Homo sapiens: one gene and its partners. The protein of the gene in region 2 interacts with the protein of the main gene of each other region in a pairwise test. Each region holds a gene or a part of one and is shown on either strand. Other genes may lie near its edges.

The links. The genes of interacting proteins can lie anywhere in the genome.
Region 1: the proteins of DMRT3 (region 2) and PLEKHF2 interact in binary tests that used the Homo sapiens proteins (3 or more experiments, as listed by UniProt).
Region 3: the proteins of DMRT3 (region 2) and HSF2BP interact in binary tests that used the Homo sapiens proteins (3 or more experiments, as listed by UniProt).
Region 4: the proteins of DMRT3 (region 2) and FHL3 interact in binary tests that used the Homo sapiens proteins (3 or more experiments, as listed by UniProt).

The regions. Positions count from the first base shown.
Region 1 is NC_000008.11:95,152,949-95,157,185, forward strand, and holds the end of PLEKHF2 (pleckstrin homology domain-containing family F member 2), read left to right. Parts: intron 1-1,082; 5' UTR 1,083-1,096; coding exon 1,097-1,846; 3' UTR 1,847-3,737; downstream 3,738-4,237. UniProt on the Homo sapiens protein: May play a role in early endosome fusion upstream of RAB5, hence regulating receptor trafficking and fluid-phase transport. Enhances cellular sensitivity to TNF-induced apoptosis.
Region 2 is NC_000009.12:988,443-993,303, reverse strand, and holds the end of DMRT3 (doublesex- and mab-3-related transcription factor 3), read right to left. Parts: intron 3,264-4,861; coding exon 2,299-3,263; 3' UTR 1,572-2,298; downstream 1-1,571. UniProt on the Homo sapiens protein: Probable transcription factor that plays a role in configuring the spinal circuits controlling stride in vertebrates.
Region 3 is NC_000021.9:43,533,989-43,538,524, reverse strand, and holds part of HSF2BP (heat shock factor 2-binding protein), read left to right. Parts: intron 1-4,536. UniProt on the Homo sapiens protein: Meiotic recombination factor component of recombination bridges involved in meiotic double-strand break repair.
Region 4 is NC_000001.11:37,999,393-38,003,550, reverse strand, and holds part of FHL3 (four and a half LIM domains protein 3), read left to right. Parts: intron 1-4,118; 5' UTR 4,119-4,138; coding exon 4,139-4,158. UniProt on the Homo sapiens protein: Recruited by SOX15 to FOXK1 promoters where it acts as a transcriptional coactivator of FOXK1.

The DNA of each region.
Region 1 (4,237 bases), on a different chromosome or scaffold from region 2:
GATACAACTCTGGGACTTGAGTGAAGTCAATATTGGACTTAGAGATTAAATGTTTAGATTAATAGGGTGTTTTGCACATTGTTAAAATGTTATTAACATTTTTTAGTACCTTTTCTGTGTCAAACCGTATCAGTTTCAAACAAAACTATCAGATGATCTCTGCTTTTTAGGTTCTGCATGGTCTCTGGAGGAACAGATTTCAGTCCTTTGGTAAAAGTGAAGCTAGAATATACATGGAATATGGATAGCTCACAGGAAGGGTTTTAGTCTAGCATGGGAGTTTAAAGGAGGCTTCCTGGAGGAGACACGATTACCTAAACTAAGTCTCGAAGGATGAATATGAGTTAGCTGCAGTAGTAAGTAGTAAAAGGAACAACAGTGAAATGGACTACAAGTAGTAGAGTGTTCTTAGAATATGACATTTGAGGTGAAGACTGACTTATGGTGAGGTTGGAGTGACAAGAACCAAGTAATGAAAGGCCGTGAACACCCTGTATTTAATAGGTTAAGGGATCATTTTGAGCAATGATGGGGTCAAATTAGGGTTTTAGAGATCACTGCCCAAAGATTGATTTGGGGGCAAGATTGAAGGCCAGGACACATGTTGGGAAACAGTTCTAGTAATCCAGGTGAGAGAATTAAGGCTGTAGCTCAGTGGTAATAGCTTACTTGGAAAATTGTAGTCATTTTTCTTAGTTTATGTAACATTTTGTTCCCTATTGTTCAGAATCCCATTGAGATTACATTTCATTGAATGGGGTTTATTATTTTGCAGAGATAAGTTATGTTAATTATCCAATCGTCTTTCATTCAATTATGTCTGTAGGAAGTTTATACTTTTACAAATACCTGCTTAACTAGTATGGTGCTACGTGGAGATGATAAATAAGTGTTTTTCATCATTTTAAAAATTGAGAAATGTTAGCCCTTTTGATGTGCTTAGTGATTATCTTAGAGGGAAAGAATTTTAGAACATTTTGCCTTTGTGTAAAAGCAATGATTTGTTAGCTTAATTTATATATAATTAACTTATAGGAATTTATAATTTATATGTGCTAATTTCTTTTTCTTTTTTTTAAAAGGCTATTAGTGAAAGATGGTGGATCGCTTGGCAAACAGTGAAGCAAATACTAGACGTATAAGTATAGTGGAAAACTGTTTTGGAGCAGCTGGTCAACCTTTAACTATACCTGGACGAGTTCTTATTGGAGAAGGAGTATTGACTAAGTTGTGCAGGAAAAAGCCCAAAGCAAGGCAGTTTTTCTTGTTTAATGATATTCTTGTATATGGCAATATTGTCATCCAGAAGAAAAAATATAACAAACAACATATTATTCCCCTGGAAAATGTCACTATTGATTCCATCAAAGATGAGGGAGACTTAAGGAATGGATGGCTAATCAAGACACCAACTAAATCTTTTGCAGTTTATGCTGCCACTGCTACGGAGAAATCAGAATGGATGAATCATATAAATAAATGTGTTACTGATTTACTCTCCAAAAGTGGGAAGACACCCAGTAATGAACATGCTGCTGTCTGGGTTCCTGACTCTGAGGCAACTGTATGTATGCGTTGTCAGAAAGCAAAATTCACACCTGTTAATCGTCGCCACCATTGCCGCAAATGTGGTTTTGTTGTCTGTGGGCCCTGCTCTGAAAAGAGATTTCTTCTTCCCAGCCAGTCCTCTAAGCCTGTGCGGATTTGTGACTTCTGCTATGACCTGCTTTCTGCTGGGGACATGGCCACATGCCAGCCTGCTAGATCAGACTCTTACAGCCAGTCATTGAAGTCTCCTTTAAATGATATGTCTGATGATGATGACGATGATGATAGCAGTGACTAAGGACACATTTGGGAGTATTTAATCAGGTGTGGCTATCTGAGAAATCAACTTTGGGGGAAATGTAAGATTCTGAGCTCTCTCTCTGTTTTGTTCTAGCCATGAATTTGCCTGAGAAACTTGTAACCTATGTGCCTCAATATATTCCATAGAAAGTAGGTCCCCCTGCCTTCTCCCACTCCTCACACTCTTCTACAGGGATAGGCTTTTGCAAATATATCAGATAAATTTTTTGTTTCTTGTTTATTTTTAGGTTATTTTCTTGGAAGGTTGGGAAAAGATGTTTGTTTTAACAGGTCATGTACTACGTTGTTGTTTTCATTTCTGTTATAAGTAAAACTAAAAGCACAGAATGGTGGGAAAGGGGCTATAATGTGGTTCATTAATAATGTTAGCAGCTTTTTTCTAACCATCCTGTCTAATGGTTAAGACACCAGTAACAAAAACACATGATTTGGAAATACTTTGGCTTTTTCATATACCTAGTGGTGCCTTATCATAATAGCACTGTTACATGAAATAAGCCCCTACCTTCTTACTTTCTGGTTTGTTGAAAAAATACACTGGTGCTCTTTGAAGTGATAAAATGAGTGTTTATGAATGGGTGTAATTAGGAAATACTTCTCATCTGACAGCTACAAATAACTAAGTTTGGAGGTATTTTCACTCTATATGAATAAATATTTTTCCATAAAATAGTTGTGATTATATTTTTGTTTTATATAGGTCCCAAATTATAATTGTCAAATATATATTTTAAATTAATAAAAGTTGTCATTCTTAGGAATTTGGTTTGAAATTTATCAGTTATACAGAATTGTCATACTGCATTAGCTTCTACCTTTAGTAAGACATATTTTTTAGGTATAAATTCTTATGCTTTAACATTATTTCTGGATTGAAAATCTTATAAAACCCTTGAAAATAAACAGTCTCTTTTTTACAAAGCCTGTGTTAGAGCACAGATTTACCTAGGCTTGAAGATTTGGAAGAAATAATATGTAAGAATGGCCTCAAGGCAGACCACTTTAAGTTTGGCTAGACTTCATATCGTGGAAGTATTGTCTATTTCAGTGTGAAACTATCTTGAATTTGCAAATATAGTGTTATATTTTATAAAGTTTTGTAAAATCCCAAACAATATTTCTATTTTTGTAAAACAATTGTATGTATAATCTGTATTTGAAATCATTTTGCAATCTATGGAAATAGAGTAGCAATTGCTATTTCTAAATTGTGAACTTTAAGTCAATCTAGATTTATTTTGAGAAGTAATTGTTCACTCTTTACTTTTGAGGCAGCCATTAGGTTGAAAGTATATATTTATCATATAAAACTTGATGCGTTTTGCACTACTCTTTCCATTTATATGCTGCAAACAACTACAGTCTTTGAAATATGGAAAATCAGCAGTCTAAAGTTTGTTTTAAATTCTAAATTTAAAAAATCTTCAAATCTGAATATACCGCAAATGTCATGAGAAGTTTGATTCAGTAACTTGTGATGGAGGATTCTTTGGTATCTTACTGTTTGGTTAAGGCACTAATTTTACTTACCTATTAGATTTTGAAAGTATCTGAGATATACAAATCTCCCTGTAGGAAATGTGAAAGAAAAGCACAACAAAACTAGGGTTTTTTGTTCATTTGCTTGCTTTTATGATTTTTTTTGGTTTGTTTTAATATCAGGTGGATTTTTGTTTCTAAGCAATATATACATAAAATCAACCAACATATCTGAAAAGGATCATGAAACCTGAGAAATGCTAATGGAGATTTGCTGGTACATAGGAATCTAGCAAATTCAGGAACCAAGGGGAAATGTTGTGAGATAACATTTACATTGTCAACCTTTATTGACTTTGTTTTTACAATAAAAAATATTTTACAACTTACTTTCTGTTCTCTGTATATTGTGACTTGAGGATTTACCCCCTCTGCTAAGATAATAAAGATATTATGCATATTTTGCCTAATAATTCAACAACTGTGAGTGCCTGCTATGTGCCAGGCATTGTTCTAGGCAGTAGGTTAGAGCAGTGAACAAAACTCCCTTTTGGATTTACCGCACGAAGGCTCAGAAAACATTCTTCCAAGTGTTGAAGATATGGCTTAATGTTACTGGGAAGTGCCTTAATATAATTTGGCTTTGCTGTCCAATTACTGTTAGAAGGAATGACTTGACCTGAATTGACATGTCTCAGAAGGAAACATACACATGGCTGACAGGTATATGAAGAAATGTCCAAGATCACTAATCATCAGGGAAATGCAAATTAAAACCACAATGAGATAATGGTAATACCTGATACCTGTTGAATGACTTATCAAAAAGATGAAAGAAGTGTTGGCAAGGATATGCAGAAAAGGAGACCCTTGCACACTGTTGGGAATG
Region 2 (4,861 bases):
TGCTTGTTAAATGTGGGTAAACTTTTGCAATGAAGATGCCTTTAAAATACATTTGTCCTAGATAGGTCCAGACATCAGCACTTCATTGCCACATAAAATGTCCTGGACATGTCTTTAGAATCAGGGGGCAAACTGCTCTCCCTTCTACTCCCTTTCTTCCTTATATAAACATTAATGTTTAAATATAACCCTAACAAGAAGCCATATTTCCCTTTTTTTTTTTTTTTTTTTGAGACAAGGTCTGGCTCTATGGCCCAGGCTAGAGTACAGTGGTACAATCTCTGTCCACTGCAACTTTTGCTTCCCCAGCTCAAGCCATCCTCCCACCTCAGCCTCCCAAGTAGCTGGGACTACAGGTACATGCCACCACACCTGGCTAATTTTTGTATTTTTTGTAGAGACAAAAATACAAAAGCTGGTCTCAAACTCATGAGTTCAAGCGATCTGCCTGCCTCGGCCTCCCAAAGTGCTGGGATTATAAGCATGAGCCACCATGCCTGGCCCGTATTTAAACACTCTAGTATGTAACTATGTCAATTAAATACATAGTAGTCCAACTAATACAGGGGATTTTTTCTCCTCAAAGGTTTTTCATGTCAAAAGTGCCCAGTGGAATTAAAAATGAGAAGGCTCTTTTACATATCTCCCTTCTCTTGGGAACCCATTCAAGGGTGGGGAGCATCTCAGGCTGAGAGAACTTGCCCTTCTCCCTCCGAGGACCGAAGAACCTTTTAAGACTTATTCCTGCACTGGGAGCTCTCTCTGCATCCTTGTCATGTAGAGGCTTTTATTTATTTGCTTATTTACTTTCCCTTCCACATTTGTAAGTTTATTGTCTGACCTAAGCAGTCATCTTACCTTTCAAGCACTTTGAAAAATGGAAACAGTAAGTCAGAGAAGTGGTTGGTGTGAGCACCACTGAATGTTACTGTTTGAAACTTCTCTCTAAAAAAAAAAATCTGAGCAAGAAGTTTGTCATATACAGCACCTCAAGAATGTTTTTAAAACGAAAGAAAAAAGCCCTGGTTTTCAATGTTTTGCCTCAAACCAGAATGGCATGGTCTCCAAGTAAGAATGAAGGAATGCACGTCTATATTCTGAATGCAAGGCTACTGAATTTCATTAATAGAAGCAGTAGTTTTCATGGACTGCATACTTCCTATGTCAGGTACTGGGCTAAGCACTTTCCTTGCTTCCCACACTCAACTATACATTGTTGGGAGTTTTCCATTTTTACTTTGTTTTCAATGGGATTCTCCACTAAAATATCTGCTTATCTAGGACTCACGGGTAGGTAACTTGGACAATACATGGAAAGCACATTCTCTTACACATAGTAGGCACTCAGTAAGTATCTGTTGAATAAGTGAATGGATGGAGAGAATTAACTCCATTTTGAACAAATTATCTTTCTGAATGCAACCCTAAAACTTTGCCATTCATATTTCTCAGGAATGTCTCATTTAACTGATAATTTGATTCCTGGCCCATGCGTTAGTAAAAGTCATTTTTACATCAAGTTTCTATTTTTAGAGATCCTCTTTCCACAAGTAGAAATGACATAAACCACGCTCGTCTCCTTAGTTTATTTTTTTCTAGAGTCCTTAACATGCTACATTAACCTGACAAAGCTTAATCTTGTGTTCGTTTCACAATACATTTCATGCAGTTCACAGCTGTGATTGGTTTTACATTGACATTACACATGTTTCGATTCAGCCATGTGAAAAGAGTAATTCTTAATGGGGTTTGTCTCTGAAAACTGTCCAAGCTTAAATAAGCATATGAGCAGTTCACTCTATTCTTAAGTGCATCTCTCTTTAAAATGCAAGGATTTTTAGTGTAAGAATATAATGTCCCTGTTTATAGTCCATTTGCAACAGAACCACTTCCTTTAGGTTTCACATATCCTGAGGAATCCACTTTTACAAAATTGCATTCAAGTATATTATTTCATTTAACATTCCAGGTTGGGTTTAGGTGCAAGGCTGACCTTCAGCTTTACATCCCCAAATAAATCTTCCACGGACCCAGCCTTCCCAAGACTATTCTTAACATTAGACTCTCTTTTACAATAAACATTCAGCACTAAAGCCACAGAACAGAGCTATTTGGCATTTTCCAGTGAAGTGCAAGAAGTTAAATAAGTTATGTTTTTATTGCTAATGTATAGAATCAAGCACAGTCACTTTGTCAAACAGAAGGAAAGGGCATACACAAGATGTGGCCTCTCCTCAGATGCCTCAGGGTCAAAACGCACAGAAAATGTCACCTGGCCACCACCCATCCAGCACCACTTTAAGATGATGTGTTGAGTGTTCTAGAGTCTGAGGAGTCAGACCTCTCGTCATAGTCGTCCTCGGTGTAAATGGACTGCTTTGACACAAATGGACACCCATCATCAGGGATGGAAATCCGAGGGTCTTCCGTGGCGCGGGCAGGAAGGACGGGCGAGCTTCTGAAGACGCTGGTAGAGTTACTGGGGAAAGGACTGACATACTGGGACCTCAGCTGATACTGCTGCTGCAGCGTCATGGTGTTCCACAGGGTGACATCATTGGGCAAAAAGGGGCTCGACTGGCTTCTCGCCAAAGTATTCCTCAGCATCAGCGGGTACCGGGGTGGCTGGGGGAAAGGGGGCTGCAGAGGCCCAGCCAAGGGACTGGGGACAACGTTGCTAGAGTCGGCAGAAAACCTCAACGTGTCTGGGACTCGAAAGGCTGATCCCACAGACCATTTGGAAGACGAGATGGGGTAGGAGCTCAAGGTGTGTTCAAAGATGTGCCCATTGGAGGGCAACGCTAGACTCTCAGGTTCTGCGGAAGTTCGCTCTGCTCCCGTGACTGAGGATCGGCTGGACAGAAGGACTTCCACGGCGCTCACCAGGTCCCCGCCACAGCCCTTGAGGATGAGCTCAAGCACCGTTGGCTTCTGGTTGGGGAATATCTTTTTTAACACTTCAAGCGGCGGTCTGTTGGCTTTCAAGCTGAAGGGCAGAGAAACAGTCCCCGAGGGGCCCTCAATCAGGAGGTGATTCTGCTCCGCGTGACACTTGGGGCTGTCAGGGCGGCTCTCGGGGTTGCCTCCGTTTTTCTGGACAGCGTATCCCCCTTCCTCCACGGACACTATCTCAGGGCTCTCAGGGGTGAAGCAGCCCTTACTCTTTGCCACATCTGGGGAACTCCTCTGGTCAGTGTCTTTGTCACTGAAGACCTCTGTATTGTCTGCCGACTTGCCGTCTCCAAGTCGTTCTTCAGTCAAATCTGGAAAACAGAACAGCTGAGTTAATCTTTTCCTGGTGTGCATAAAGAGGAGCAGATGTGCTCAGAAGAGACCTGTACACGTGCTTTTTGGAAGAGCAAATGCATCTCAATGGGTCATAATATACTACAAGCCTTTTTAAAAAAATTCGAACTATATCACTGGCAAATGAAACAAAAACCCTGTAAATAAAGATCTAGAAATCAGAGTGGCTTCCTGGAATGCTTTGTGCAAGGAAGCTTGCCTTCAACATAGAATGGCTACATGAACCTGTAACATATGGCTTTCATAGCAGTAACAATCTCAATAGAGAGCCTCTTTGGGAGGAGGGGTGGGGGACTCCTGGAAGAGCAAAGCTCAGGGAGAAACAGGAAAATCAGCTCAGCTTGTCTTCCGGCTCCTCTTCTGCAAATAAGGTCCCCAGCTGTTATCTAGGGATAGTACCATCCAGATACCCACAGGGAATTTTAATATCTGAAATCTATTTTCCCATAGGCTGATTTTGTGTTAAATATGTCTTATGAACCAATCAGTAAGTTGCATCAGGTTACCATATACAATAGCTAGCTAATTCAATTGCTGAAGTGAAAGATACCTCTATCCATTGAAATCTTTCATAAGAAGCCACTTGAGGCATTGGCAAACTTGGTTGCCAATAACTTGTACTAGAAAGCAAACGAAACCAGCTATGAATTCCGGATGGCAGGATAAGTTGCTGGAGAGGAAAAAAGGAAGTGGCTAGAAAGGGTTTGTTAAATTGCACGGGGGCATTATTATCCATCAATGAAACAACGCATCACACTCCACCGCCACGGGTGGCACGAGGCAGATACCTGTGCATGAACTGTTTTGCTGGTACAGTTCATGGAAAGGACTTGAAGATACCTTTTTTTAAAGCCAGTGAAATTTGAAGATACCTTTTTATATTATATGAAAAGAAGAAGGAGGGAAAAAAAGGCTTCCCAAATAAAGCAGAGACTTGCGATAAAGTAAACCAGTTGCAAATTTAACATCTTGACCTAAGAACATTTTTACTTAACAGCTGGTAATATTGCAGGGCTAAGCACACAGAAAAGAGTAAGTCAGAGTGGTTTGCTTTGCAGTAGTAAATTCCAACAGGACTTTATAATAAAGAAACATATTTTTTAGTAGCAAGCTATTTGCAAATAGAGTTTTGTCCTTTTTTGAAACACGCGCTGGCTGTGGCTACTCAAAGCCAGGGTAGCTGATCGAAAGATGAAAATTCCTAATGACCCAGTTGTTGAGTTGTAAACAATTGCTTTGCCTGTGTTTTCTGCTGCCCTGCCTGAATAGCTTCATTGTTGCCTTCTCTGTGGGCACACCTGATTATATACAGATAGCCAGCCGGTGAAATTTCATCAAAGCACCCTCTAGAAACAATCTTCTCCTACACTTGTCATTTTAAAAGCCTTAAGGGCCTACTTATGAACATTCTTCTAATACAGGTGTATCTTAAGTGTAACCAAAAAACAAAACTTTGTGAAATTTCATCAAAGCACCTTCTAGAAACCATCTTCTCCTACACTTGTTATTTATTTTAAAAGCCTTAAAGGCCTACTTAGAAACATTCTTCTAATAC
Region 3 (4,536 bases), on a different chromosome or scaffold from region 2:
GCGTGGGCAAGAGAACCAGACTCTGTCTCAGACAAAGAAAGAAACAAACAAACAAACAGTTTAATTCTAGCTGCAGCATGGCAGATGGATAGGGGTAGGAAGAGGCAAGAATGCAAAATTAAATAAGCAAGCCACCAAGAAGGCTATTACAGTAGTCTGGGGGAAGCAGGATAGCTTAGACTAGGGTGGTGGTTATGGGCTTAGGGCGTGTTGGGAGGTAGAGTTGATAAGATGTGATGTGAGAGAAGAGACGAATCAATAACAATACCTGCCATCTTTGGGTGGGTAAATGGTAATGCTGTTTACTGAGAATACCTGCATCTTTGGGTGGGTAAATGGTAACGTTGTTTACTGAGATGGGGAAGATGAGGCAGGAGCACAGAGAATCAGGAGTTGGGTGTTGGCCTTGTGAAACCTGAGTTGGCAGTAAATTCCCAAGGGGAGTTGTCCAGGCAAGTTTTTGTGGCTATGAAGTCTGGAATTCCAGGGAAAGGCTGGGGTTGGAGAAATGGATTTAGAGTCACTGGTAGATACATGGGATTTGAAGTCATGGAGTAGACGAAGTCACCTAAGGAGAGTAGAAAGAGAAGGAAGCCTAGGACAGAGCCCTGGGCTAGCATCTAAAGGAGAAGTATAAGGAGGGACTGGTGAAGGAGTGCTATGGAAGCCAAGAAAAGCCAGAGGAGTCAAGTGAGACGAAAGCTGAGCAGTGACAACATGGAGGACATTGGTGACCTTGAGAGAAGCTGTCTCAGCAGTGAGCAGATGGTAGCGTGACTGAAGGGTGAAGGTGAGGTGGGGCGGTAGCAACAACAGACCACTCTTGTAATATTCCTGGGAAGGGAGTCAAGAACTGGGCAGAACTGGAGGCCAGTTTGGGGTCAAGGAAGATTTTTTTTTTTTTTTTGCCTTCTTGTTCTTTGAAGCTTGTAAGAATGGGCTTATGTTGCTGCTCGATGACTCCATGTTCCTAGGTGCTCAAGGAGCCTGGGGCATTGCCTAAGATGTGGCTGACATGGTCCAGAATCCATATGTGCTTTGGAGGTGGCCAGGAAGCCCATAGGAGGAGGGAATGCTCAGTGTGTGCCCTGAGAGCTTTGCCACTGTCAGAAAGCACCTGACAGGAACAAGTTTGATTGTATTTGACACATGCCGGCACTACCACAGAAAGTTTTAGCAACAGATAAGAGGGGACATCTGTACTCTCAACTTCTTTTTTCATACTTCCTATTGAAGTTTTCATCTCTACTCTCAGGCATTTAATTTCTAAGACTGCTGTTTATTTTTAATTGTCTTAAAAAATAGCATCCCATTCTTGTTTAACAGATGATATAGCTTCTTTTACCTCCTTGAGGAAGATATTAATAATAGTTTTTTAAAACTTTTCTTCTCACTGCACAATCTCTTTTCTTTGTCCTCCTTTTGTTCCTGTTTAAAATGATAGCCATTTATCTTTTTCTCAGGTGTCTGGTGATGTGTGGTTGTCTGGTCATGTTTAACAGTGGGATTTATAATGCCGATTGGAAGCTGTGAGCATATGGGTGGAGCTTCTGAACTTTTCTGCAGTGTGAGCTGGTGCATCAATTAATTGGGAACCCATAGGTCAGTATCTTCGACTGTGTTGTCTTGGGTTGTTCAGATTGTCTGGAGAAGACTCACCCACCCTTATTTCTGGAGGGATGAAGGCCTATAAACTCCGGAAACAAAGTAGAGATAGAGGGAATGTCTTAGAGCTTGTAGGTATGTGTTTATCTAATCCACATGTTTTCCAGACAGAACCTCCATCCTCAATTGTGCCTGATGTTTCACCTCCAGAGATTCTTTAGAAAATAAATGTCCAGGCCAGGTGGGGTGGTTCACACCTCTAATCCCAGCACTTTGGGAGGCTGAGGTGGGCGGATCACCTGAGGTCAGGAGTTCGAAACCAGACTGGCCAACATGATGAAACCCCGTCTCTACTAAAAATATAAAAATTAGCTGGGTGTGGTGGCAGGTGCCTGTGATCCCAGCTACTCAGGATGCTGAGGCAGGACAATCACTTGAACTGGGAGGCGGAGGTTGCGGTGAGCTGAGATTACGTCACTACACTCCAGCCTGGGTGACAGAGTGAGACTCTGTCTCACAAAAAAAAAGAAAAGAAAAGAAATGTCCAGTCTCTACTAGGGAAGGGCATTTTTCCAGAGGCAGGGAATAGGGGAGAGGGTCCAGGGATCTAATTTCTTATTATTATTTTTATTTTTTTTTAGTTTTGAGATGCAGTCTTAACTCTGTCGCCCAGGTTGGAGTGCAATGGCGTGATTTCAGCTCACTGCAACCTCTGCCTCTGGGGTTCAAGTGATTCTCCTGCCTCAGCCTCCCAGGTAGCTGGGATTACAGGTGCCTGCCATGACACCTGGCTAATTTTTGTATTTTTAGTAGAGACAGGGTTTCACCATGTTTTTCAGGCTGGTCTCGAACTCCTGACCTTAGGTGATCCACCTACCTTGGCCTCACAAAGTGCTGGGATTACAGGCGTGAGCCACCAAGCCTGGCCTTCTTCTTATTTTTAATATAAAGCCAGATTTGTTGAGTTATAATTTACATAGAACAAAATTCACTTGTTAGTAGACAATTGTATGAGTTGTGACATAAAACTATCTCAGCATATAACTCATATGCTGAGTTATGTGGTAAGTATGTGTTTAAATGTATAGGAAATTGCCAAATTGTTGTCTCAGGTGGTTGTACCATTTTATTTATTTTATTTTATTTTATTTTATTTTATTTTATTATTTTATTTTATTTTATTTTATTTTATTTTATTTTATTTTATTTTATTATTTTATTTTATTTTATTTTATTTTATTTATTTTATTTATTTTTGAGACAGAGTCTCGCTCTATTGCCCAGGCTGGAGTGCAGTGGCACGATCTCGGCTCACTGCAACCTCCACCTCGTGGGTTCAAGTGATTCTCCTGCCTCAGCCTCCCAAGTAGCTAGGATTACAGGCGTGCACCACCACACCCAGCTAATTTTTGTATTTTTAGTAGAGATGGGGTTTCACCATGGAGGCCAGGCTGGTCTCAAGTTCCTGACCTCAGGTGATCTGCCTGCCTCAGCCTCCCAAAGTGTTGGGATTACAGGCGTAAGCCACTGCGCCTGGCCTGGCAGTACCATTTTAAATTTTCACCACTAATCTATGAACATTCCAGTTGTTCCTCATTCTTGTCAACACTTGGTATTTTCAGATTTTTATTTTTTAATTTTAGCCATTCTAATAGGTATGGATTTAATTTCCATTTTTCTAATAGCCATGATGCTGAGCATCTTTTTGTGTGCTTGCCATTTGTGTATCTCCTTTGGTGAAGTGTCTTTTCAAACACTTTCCCTATTTTTATTGGGCTGTTGTGTTACTGAGTTTTCAGAGATGTATGTGTATTCTGGATTTAGGTCCTTTATCAGATACGTGTTTTGCAAATGTTTTGTCCTCATCTAGTGGCTTGTCTTTTCATTGTGACTGTCTTTTGAAGAGCAGATTTTTAAAATTTTGGTGTGGCTAATAAATTATTTAGTTGTATGGATTATGCTTTTGGTTTTGTGTCTAGGAAATTGTTACCTAATTCAAGGTCACAAAGATTTTTCTCCTGTTTTCTTCCAGAAGTTTTAAAATTTGGGGTTTTACATTTAGGTATGTTATTAATTTTTGTATAATTTTTGTATGTTAGGCAAGGTATAGATTGAAGTTCTTTGTTTTTGCATATGGATGTTCAATTTTTCCAGCACCATTTGTTGTAAAGGTTATTCTTTCTTGATTGAATTGAATGTATACCTTTGTTGAGAGTTCACAAAGCTGTGGTCTGTTTTTGGATCCTCTAATTTTATTTCACTTATCTCTTTGTCTGTCGCTCTGTCACTTGACCAGTACCACACTCTTTATGGCCATAAATGTTGAAATCTAGTACTGCAATTCCCCAACATTTCTCTTTCTCTAAATTGTTTTGTCTGGTCTAGTTCCTTTGTTTTTCCAAATAAATTTGAGAATTACTTGTTGATTTCTGCTAAAATTTCAACTTGGATTTTGGTTGGCATTGCATTGATTATATAGATGAATTTGAGGAGATTTGACATTTTAACAATATTGAGTCTTCTAGTCCATAAATATGGCATATTCTCTCCATCTATATGTCTGTGGATCCTTATATCTGTGTTTTGTTGTTTTCAGCATAGAAATCTTGCACATAGTTTCATGAGATTTATACTTAAGTGTTTCATGTTTTGGTGCTATTATATAATATATGGTAATTTTTAAAAAACATTAGATTTTTAATTTTTTGTTATAAGTATGTGGATACAATTGACCTTTGTATGTTGAATTTGTATTCTGTGACTTTGCTAAACTCAATTAGTTCTAATAACTTTTTTTCTAGTTTCTTTGGGATTTTCTGTATAGACAATCATATCATCTGCAAATAGAGACAGTTTCATTTCTGCCTTTCTAATCAATAAACCTTTTATTTCTTTTTCTTGCCTTACTGCACAGGCTAGGATCTCTAGTAT
Region 4 (4,158 bases), on a different chromosome or scaffold from region 2:
CTCAAGAGTTAAGCTTACTAGAGTCAGGCTGACCGGACTGAAGCGACCACTTTCCCCACTGGTGTCCTCAGCAAGCCCCATGGGCCTGGGGCCCCCTATTCTCTCCCTGGGCCTATGCTGAGAATGTCCAGGTCAAATTTCAGACCAGGCTGGGCACAGTGGCTCACGCCTGTAACCCCAGCACTTTGGAAGGCTGAGGCCAGAGGATCACTTGAAGCCAGGAGTTCAAGACCACCCTGGGCAACATAGTGAGAACCCCATCTCTACAAAAAATAGAAAAACCTAGCTGGGCATGGTGGCACATGGCTGTAGTCCCATCTACTCAGGAGGCTGAGGCAGGTGGTTTGCTTGAGCCCAGAGTTGTTTTTTTTGTTGTTGTTTTGTTTTGTTTTGAGACAGAGTTTTGCTGTTGTAGCCCAGGCTGGAGTGTAATGACATGATCTTGGCTCACTGCAACCTTCACCTCCTCGGTTCAAGCAATTCTCCTGCCTCAGCCTCCTGAGTAGCTGGGCTTACAGGCGCCCGCCACCATGCCTAGTTAATTTTTGTATTTTTAGTGGAGATGGGTTTTCACCATGTTGGCCAGGCTGGTCTTGAACTCCTGACCTCAGGTGATCCACCGGCCTTAACCTCCCAAAGTGCTGGGATTACAGGTGTGAGCCACCTCACCTGGCTGAGCACAGAAGTTCGAGGCTGCCGTGAGCCATGATCGTGCCACTGCACTCCAGCCCTGGCAACAGAGTGAGACCCCAACTCAAAACAAAAAAAAAAAACAAAAAGGCTGAGCGGACACCAGCTTGGCCAACATGGCGAAACTCTCCATCTCTACTAAAAATACAAAAATTAGCTGGGCATGGTGGTGCCCTCCTGTAATCCCAGCTACTTGGGAGGCTGAGGCAGAAGAATCGCTTGAACCTGGGAGGTGGAGATTGCAGTGAGCCGAGATGGAGTTAACTGCGCTCCAGTCTGGGTGACAGAGTGAGACCCTGTCTCAAAAAAAAAAAAAAAAAAAAAATTGGGCTGGCACTGTGGCTCATGCCTGTAATCCCAGCACTTTGGGAACCCAAGGCAAGAGGATAGCTTGAGCCCAGGAGTTTGAGACCAGCCTGCGCAGCATATTGAGACCCCATCTCTATTTAAAAATTCTAGTCCAGGCAGGGTGTGGTGGTTCATGCCTGTAATCCCAGCACTTTGGGAGGCTGAGGCAGGGAGATCATGAGGTCAGGAGTTCGAGACCATCCTGACTAACACAGTGAAACCCCGTCTCTACTAAAAATACAAAAAATTAGCCGGGCGTGGTAGCAGGTGCCTGTAGTCCCAGCTACTCGGGAGGCTGAGGGAGGAGAATCACTTGAACCCGGGAGGTGGAGGTTGCAGTGAGCCGAGATTGCGCCACTGTACCCCAGCCTGGGCGACAGAGCGAGACTCTGTCTCAAAAAAAAAAAAAAAATTCCAGTCCAGCTGCTTGACCCAGACCTGCCTGTGAAACTGCTATCTGGCCCCAGTATGAGTGAGGGCGCTAATAGTAAAATACTAATAGCTACCATTTTCTGAGTATTTATTATCTGCCAGGTGCTTTACAAGTATCATCACATTTAAGCCTGACAACAAACTTAGGAGGTAGGAAGTGGTAGTATCTCATTTAATTAGATGGGAAAACAGGCTTAGGGATTTGCCCAAGATCACTCAGCCAGTAAGTGCAGGAGCCAGGATTCAAACCTTACAGCTTGAGCTGCTCCATACACCATAGCCAGTTACGCAGTCATTCTGAGCTCCAGGAGGTTCACTGGGAGGTGCCTTGTGAGGGGAGATTGTTGGAGGTGCAGGGTTGTGAGCCATCTGTAGAGGAGCAGTCTCCCCCAAACCCCGCCCCACTGCCGGTCAGGAAGGAATACAAGGCTGGCTCCCTTCAGTCCCCGCAGTCCCCAGCCTTGCCAGGGAAAAGGGCAGGGAGAGGGGTATGGGCAGAGACAGGTGGGCCTTGTTGGTGCCCTTTACTCTGTCCTCACCAGAGCCCAGCTGGATAGACTAGGGCATTGGGGGATTCTGGGAAGGAAATAGAAGCCATGCCCATACCCTATTTGGGTTGCCCTGGTTTCGGAGTGCTGACTGTCTCTCAGGGGGTGGACCCAAGTCTAGCCTGGGCCTGAGAAGGTGGCAGCCGCAGTGGGCCAAGCCAAGAAGGAAGGAAGAGGCCCAGGCACCCCCTGTGGACGCATTCCACCTGTGTGGCCCCCTGCTGCCCCGTGGCTGACAGCCCAGGCAATCCTCAGATGTTGGGCCAGAGGAAACCTGGGCCTGAGTGGCAGGAAGGGGGCTGAGAAAGAGGAGTATCTTCTCTACACCATAGCCCCCAGCCCAGGAGTTCCAGCTCTAAAGACCCTGGCCCCTGGTGGCCTCATGCCCTGGCCTGGAGCGCAAGCTGGCTGTTCTCCCATTGCGCAGAGGCTTGATGTATGGAGAGTCAGGCCTCCAAGCTGGGGGCATCTGCTGGTGCCTGGAGTCTGAACTTCAAGCCAGAGCAGCGCTTGTTGTCAAGAATTTCGCACTGGGGGTGGATGAGAAAAGGAGGACTTCTCCTTCAGCTTGAGCCAGGGCAGGCCCTGGCGACTGCCAGCACTGGAGCCTTGTGGGAGAGTGGGTTGGTGGATTCCTTTGTGTGTCCCTGTAACTTCCCCGGGCTCATCCACAGCTGTGAGAACATCTCCTTCCTATGGGTCCTGGTGGTTCCTCTCCACTACCCCAGGATCCCAGCCCTTAGAGAGCAGCCTTCATGATGGAGGAGAGCAGGGGTGGGAGCTCTGACTTTGGGGCTAGAGACTGGAATCCGGGGCAGCAGAAAGGTCTGGGAACCCCACTTCCCTACCGCTCCACTCCCTAGGCTCCTGTTCCAGAGGCAGCTGTGTGGATGACCTCATCCCACAAACATGCTTTGTTCCTGAGAAAATGGAAAGTGTCTGAGGTTTGGTCGGGGGCTGGGTGTCTCCAGCAGCAGCTCTCAGGGCTCCCCCTTGTCCTACTCCCCACCCAAGATGGGGCCTGATTGGGGAGAAAATGTCTTCAGTGGCTCTTGCTCTCTCTCCTTTCAGCTCCCTAGTCCCAAACCCTGAGAAATCGGAAAAGGTGGGAGAGACCTTCTCTCCCAGAGGCAGTAGGAGGGAAATCATGACCCCAGGGGATGGAAAGATCCTGGGGTTTTGCCAGATGTTAGCAGGAGGTGGCAGGGGGTACACTGCACTCCCAGTCTGTCTCCAGTTCCCCTCTGCCTCCCCCGACACTTCATTTTCCTTTTTTCTCCCCATTGCTGGCAAAACCTGACATCTGGCCATCTGTGCCGCCACAGCTGCTGCAGATGTTACAGGCCAAGGCTGTCCAAGCTGGTGTGACACAGCGGGGGTGGGGGGATGAGGGCAGAGGGTCTAGCTAGGGAAGACTGGCTGTGTCCAGCTTGCAGGATTTCCTTCCTGCTTGAACCTAAGCTGAGCCTCTGAAGTTCCCATTGCTTGGCTGATTCCCCGGGAGGGAAGGCCCAACCTCTCACACTGGCCTCTTCTACCATTCATTAGTCCAGCACCTCTCTAGCATTCCACTGTTTTCTGGATCAGGAGGGGCAGGCACAGCCCATTCCCGTCTCTAAGTTCTGTACTCCAGAGCTCTGGTTAAGGGTTCCTTTATCCATATTCCTAAAGTCCCTTCCTGGGAGTCAGGAGAGGGTGGGAGTACTGCTCATAAGGAGTAGAGTGGGGTGGCTCCCTGCCCCTGCTTCTCCCACGCTGGGGACAGTCGGGACAGTGGAGGCTAGACGCTGGCTGGGACAGGAAATGAGTCACTGACCCAGGAAAAGCCCCCTCCCCCTAGATCTGCTAGGGCCTAGATAAGAAAACAACTTCTGCTTCCTGGTTTTTTTCCTGACCTCTTCCTACCCCGAGTTAAATACAGAAAGAAACATGTGGGATTCCTGGTTTCCCAGAAGCACCCCTTCCCCATCCCCACCTACTCTGAACTGGCATTTCCTATGCCGGGTCTCTTGGCTGTGTTTTGAATGCAGAGGCCTCTTTGCCAGGAGCCAAGCCACAGCCTCTCTGTGTGACCCCAGTTCCACCTTGTGCTCCTAACAGGGTTCTCTCCCCTTGCCACCATGAGCGAGTCATTTGACTG